Regions from separate parts of the Homo sapiens genome. Here region 2 is linked to region 1. Evidence: fine-mapped expression QTL. A gene starts in region 1. The other region holds a variant in brackets. All regions are shown on one strand. Distances are from middle to middle. Region 1 holds the start of THAP7-AS1 (THAP7 antisense RNA 1). Region 2 overlaps YPEL1 (yippee like 1).

What was found. PIP is the estimated chance that this variant, and not a neighbour inherited with it, causes the effect. A credible set is the group of variants that fine-mapping cannot tell apart.
Region 2: its variant is the best candidate, but not a certain one, in a credible set for the expression of THAP7-AS1 in spinal cord (GTEx, PIP 0.79).

The regions. Positions count from the first base shown.
Region 1 is chr22:21,000,257-21,003,160 of GRCh38, reverse strand. It overlaps THAP7-AS1 (THAP7 antisense RNA 1), which reads right to left and starts at 1,239. Exons shown (of 2, transcript NR_027051.1): 1 at 332-1,239. THAP7 (THAP domain containing 7) reads left to right here and starts at 1,043. Exons shown (of 4, transcript NM_030573.3): 1 at 1,043-1,329; 2 at 1,750-1,905; 3 at 2,374-2,514; 4 at 2,729-2,904. The coding sequence starts at 1,250. RefSeq lists silencers at 48-438, 1,080-1,189, 1,210-1,379 and an enhancer at 1,980-2,189.
Region 2 is chr22:21,715,718-21,718,621 of GRCh38, reverse strand. The region is part of intron 1 of YPEL1 (yippee like 1); the gene reads left to right. Among named protein-coding and RNA genes, the nearest start is that of YPEL1, 19 kb to the left of the region's middle. The variant A/T (reference allele first, on the strand shown) is at 1,451.

The sequences.
Region 1 (2,904 bases):
GCCCCCCACGGTGGTCCCTGTGGGAGACCTGGCCAAAGTGCAGCGGGCGGTGTGCATGCTGAGCAACACCACGGCCATCACGGAGGCCTGGGCCTGCCTGGACCATAAGTTCGGCCAAGTGCGCCTTAGTGCACTGGTACGTGGGGGAGGGCATGGCAGTGGGGGAATTCTCCGAGGCCCGCGAGGATCTGGCAGCTCTGGAGGATTATGAAGATGTGGGCATGGATTCCGTGGAAGCTGAGGCTGAAGAAGGCGAAGAATAGTGAGGGGAGGGTGCGGCAGGCAACCATCCCTCTGTATTCCCCACCATAACGCTAGGAGAGCTAATTACCTATTAAAATTTCCGTATTGCAAATTAGCCGGGCGTGGTGGCGGGCGCTTGTAGTCCCAGCTACTGTGGAGGGTGAGGCAGCCGAATGGCGTGAACCCGGGAGGCGGAGTTTGCAGTGAGCCGAGATCGCGCCACTGCACTCCAGCCTGGGCGACAGAGCGAGACTCCGGTCTCAGGAAAATAATAATAAAATAAAAAATAAAATTTCTGTATTGCGATACTGTCTTTCTCCTGTGTTGTACTTTGAGAGATTCCTCCTCCAGATAACCCTCCCTGAAGTCCACCTCCCCAGTACGAGAGTGAGTGCGGGCTCTGGTTTTTGTCGGGTTCTTTCGTGCAAGCGTCCCAGGCCCCGTTTTATTTCTTCCGTCAGAGGTCATTCCGAGGCGAGCTGCCGCCCCTGCGGCTTTCGAGGCTCCCAGGACACTGCCGCTTTCCGCTCCCGGGCCGCTCCCGAACGCTGGGGCCGCTCCATCGTGCCGGGGTGTTTACGGAGAAAAGTGAGGCCTGAGCGGACGAAAGAGAAGCCCACGTGGGCGACAATACTGGTAGTCCAGGGAGCTGGGACGACGCGGGCGCGTCAGAAACTCGCACGCTCGCGCCGCTTACTAACCCAGCTAGCTAGGACCTCGCCCCGCCCCGCCCCGGTGGCGGGGGCACCTCCGGCTCTCCAGTCTCTATGGTACCAACTTCCGGCGCGCGCTACCCCTCGCGAGACTTCGGCGGCGCAGCAATGGCCAGAGCGTGAGTGCCGCTGACAGAAGTCAAGAGAATCGGCTGGGACGGGGTTGGGGCGACAACGGGCCGGGGGGGACCCGACAGGCCAGAGCCCCTTGGGGAGGAGCGGCGGCTGGAGGCGCGAGGCTCCTCCGGATGCCCGGAGAGCCGCTTGCGACTTAACTCCCGCCTCTTTCCCAGATGCCGCGTCACTGCTCCGCCGCCGGCTGCTGCACACGGGACACGCGCGAGACGCGCAACCGCGGCATCTCCTTCCACAGGTCAGCGCGCGTGCGCCGCGGGCTCACGTGCGCATGCGCTAGTTGTTGCTCGCCTCGGGTCGCAACTGCGTAGAGGCTTCGCGCCTTTCTCAGATACTGAGGAGGCTTGAACCTGTGGGTGGGAGGTGAAGCGGAACGGTCCCGGCGGGACTGAATGCAGTCGGGAAGGGGAGGACGGGAAGTCTAGCCGGCTTGGACCCGCCCCACTCTGTTACCTGCCAGATGACGCTGAGGAAACTGCTTTTCTTCTCGAGGCCTCCGTTGCCTCGTCTGTGCCCGGGCGGTGGTGCTTACCCGGCGGGGTCGCAGGGAGGTCTCGTGGCGGCGCGTGTTGGGTCTGCGTTTCCCCTCTGGGGTGCTTGGGCAGCATGAGCCCAGGGCTGTGGACAGCCTGGTGCTCACGGGTTTGTGGCTCCACAGACTTCCCAAGAAGGACAACCCGAGGCGAGGCTTGTGGCTGGCCAACTGCCAGCGGCTGGACCCCAGCGGCCAGGGCCTGTGGGACCCGGCATCCGAGTACATCTACTTCTGCTCCAAACACTTTGAGGAGGACTGCTTTGAGCTGGTGGGAATCAGGTGGGCCTCCCTGCCGGCCGACGCTGGGGTAGGATGTGGGGCTCCCGGCGGACTGGGACAGCTGCAGGTCATGGAAGTCCCTTGAGCAGCCTGCGTCCAAGGGGGCTGTTTCCTGTTCCCAGCTCTGCACAGTGAAACCCACCCCCAGGATCACTGTGCCTGTGACACAAGGGGAAAACAGGAGCCTTTCCAGAGAGTATCTTTCAGAGCCCCAGTCTTGCCAGCAAGTCCACAAATCAAAGAATTCTTTCTGGCTGGTCAGCCCAGCTCGGCTTATGCAGGCTTTCCACACACCTGGACTGTGAGGAGTCCTGCGGGGAAGCGATTGGTGTAGCTGTAACTTGGCGTTCCCCAGACGTATTGTTTGCACGATGCCTTCCAGCATCCCACGGCGCTGCTGCTGGGGGCAGATTGGCCTGGGGAGGCAGCACTTGCTCTCCAGCTCATCTGGGTTGCTTTTCCCCGCAGTGGATATCACAGGCTAAAGGAGGGGGCAGTCCCCACCATATTTGAGTCTTTCTCCAAGTTGCGCCGGACAACCAAGACCAAAGGACACAGTTACCCACCTGGCCCCGCTGAAGTCAGCCGGCTCAGACGATGCAGGAAGCGGTATGTGATATGGGTGGGGGATGCCCCACTCCCACCCCTAGGCTGAGGGACTGGGCCCTAGGGGTGTCTGCCAGCAGTCTCGCTGGACAGGGTTCTTGCTACACAGAACCTGTGGATCGGGTTTGGGTGTTAAGGGTGGATCAGGTGGGCTGGTGGAGGGGGGTCTGGCAAGCCCTCAGCCTAGCCCATCAGTCTCTCTCTTCCCCCTTACCAGCTGCTCCGAGGGCCGAGGGCCCACAACTCCATTTTCTCCACCTCCACCTGCTGATGTCACCTGCTTTCCTGTGGAAGAGGCCTCAGCACCTGCCACTTTGCCGGCCTCCCCAGCTGGGAGGCTGGAGCCTGGCCTTAGCAGCCCCTTTTCAGACCTACTGGGCCCCTTGGGTGCCC
Region 2 (2,904 bases), 720 kb before region 1:
CCTGGGAACTGTTCTCCAGGCGCTGCAGAGCTCCTCTGTGCTGTCTGTATCCACCTGTGGTCTGTTTCCGGGCTCTCTTTCATGTCACATTGACCTGTTTTTGTATCTTATGCCAGTCTTTTTTCTTTTATTTATTTATTTATATTATTATTTTTTTTTGATGGAGCCTCGCTCTGTTGCCCAGGCTGGAGTGCAGTGGTGCGATCTCAGCTCACTGCAAGCTCCACCTCCTGAGTTCACGCCATTCTCCTGCCTCAGCCTCCCAAGTAGCTGGGACTACAGGTGCCCACCACCACGCCCCACTAATTTTTTTTGTATTTTTAGTAGAGATGGGGTTTCATTGTGTTAGCCAGGATGGTCTCCATCTCCTGACCTCATGATCCACCCGCCTTGGCCTCCCAAAGTGCTGGGATTACAGGCATGAGCCACTGCACCCAGACTCAGACTCTTTGTTGTTGTTGTTGTTGTTTTGTTTTTGTTTTTTTTTTTTTTTGAGACAGAGTCTCACTCATTACCTAGGCTAAGTCCAGTGGCACAATCTCTGCTCATTGCAGCCTCGACCCCTTGGGCTCAAGCAATCCTCCCACTTCAGCCTCCCTAGTAGCTGGGACCACAGACACGTGACGCCACACTTGGCTAATTGAAAAACACTTTTTTTGCGTAGAGACAGGGTCTCACTGTTGCACAGGCTGGTCTCAAACTCCTGGGCTCAAGCAATCCTCCTGCCTTGGCCTCCCAAAGTGCTGGGATGACAAGTGTGAGCCACTATGTCCAGCCTTTGCCCCACTTCTTGAAAGATATTTTCACTGAATGTAAAATCTGAGATATCAGTTATTATCTTTCAGAATCATAATTGTCCCTTTCTCTGCTGCCTTTTGGGCTCTTGTTTTACCTGGGAGCTTGTTCTGTTGAACAGGTCATTTTTCCTTCCTCTGGACACTTTTAAGACTTTTTTCCCCTTTATCTTTGGTGTTTTGCAGTTTCATTATTTGTCTAGCTGTGGCTTTATTTTTATTTATCCTGCTTTAGGACTGTTGGGCTTTTTAAGTCTGTGGATTAGTAGCTTTTCCTTAATTCTGGAGAATCCACAATCATCAATTATTCACAAAGCGCCTCTACCCCATTTTCTTCTTGCCTCAACCTTCTGAAATCCAAATAAATGTCATCTCTCCCTGCTTCACATCTCTTAGTTTAAGACTCATATTTCCACCTTCCTCACTGTTTTTTTGTTTTTTTTTTTTTTTTGAGACGGACTATTGCTCTGTTACCCAAGGCTGGAGTGCAGTGGCGCAATCTCAGCTCACTGCAACCTCCGCCTCCCGGGTTCAAGCAACTCTCCTGCCTCAGCCTCCTGAGTAGCTGAGACTACAGGCAGACACCACCACGCCCGGCTAATTTTTGTATTTTTAGTAGAGACGGGGTTTCACCGTGTTGGCCAGGCTGGTCTCGA[A/T]CTCCTGACCTTGTGATCCGCCCCCCGCCCCCCCAGCCCCGGCCTCCCAAAGTGCTGGGATTACAGGCGTGAGCCAGCGCGCCCGGCCTCTCGCTCTTCTTTATTCAGCATAATTTATTCTGACGTATCTTCAGTGTAGGTATTCTCTTTTTATTCTCCTATTCCTGTTAAACCCATTGGGCTGAATGCTGTTTATTTCTAGAATGTCTACACCTGTTTTTCTGCAAGGTCATTTTTTTTCTCGTTTGCTGTTGGTTACATATACTCTCAAGCTCATCGGTTCCCTCCGTGAGTACAGGTAAGTGGAGGAGCCTCATGGTCTGCCTCAGGTCTTTGAGATGTTGAGTCTCTGGATCTGGTCCTGCTGCTGGCCTTTTCTGTCCTTGCTCATGGGGCATTGTTTCTGTGAATGTGTGGTTACTTTTGACTGCATTACTCATTGTCCTGGAAAAATGACTTTGTGGGAATTTTTCAGATCTAGGATAAAGATGCTTCCTCCAAACTAGGTTTACGCTTCCTTCTGCCAGGTACCTCAGGGCGCTGTCAGCCTAAAGCCAATTTAAACTAAATCCATCAACTGTGAGCTTTTGGAATCTTCTCACTGGTGTGAATTTGGGCCATAAGTCCTGTGAGGGCTGTCCTATGATCACTGCTCTGTGGGGTGGGGACCAGCCTTAGAGTTCTCATCGGAAGCCCGGGGTGGCTGGATGGGGGCAGATGTTTTCAGGGCAAGAGCGGCTTGGCTCGCCTCTCTGGTTTCTGGTTTCCCCAGATGGTGCCTGGCGGCTCCTCACTGTCTTGTCAGCCCCTGGATGCCTTTAAGAAAACATCCTTTTATTTTGTCAGCATTTTTGGTACTTCTCAGTGGGAGGGCTGGTCCAAGTATTTGGCTTATCATAGTTTTACAAAAAGTTGGTTTCTATGAAATCTTAAGTCACCTCTTTTTTAAAAATGTAACTTTTAGTCTGGGCGCGGTGGCTCACTCCTGTAATCCCAGCACTCTGGGAAGCCGGGGCAGGCAGATCACTTGAGGCCAGGAATTTGAGACCAGCCTGGACAACATGGTGAAACCCCATCTCTACTAAAAATACAAAAATTAGTCAGGTGTAGGGCCAGGCGCAGTGGCTCACGCCTGTAATCCCAGCACTTTGGGAGGCCAAGGCAGGTGGATCAACTCAGGTTGGGAGTTTGAGACCAGCCTGACCAACATGGAGAAACCCCGTCTTTACTAAAAATACAAAATTAGCTGGGTGTGGTGGCGCATGCCTGTAATCCCAGTGCTCGTGAGGCTGAGACAGGAGAATCACTTGAACCCGGGAGGTGGAGGTTGTGGTGAGCCAAGATCGTGCCATTGCACTCCAGCCTGGGCAATAAGAGCGAAACTCTGTCTCAAAAAAAAAAAAAAAAAAAGAAAAGAAAAAGAAAAATTAGGTGTGGTGGCACGTGCCAGTAGT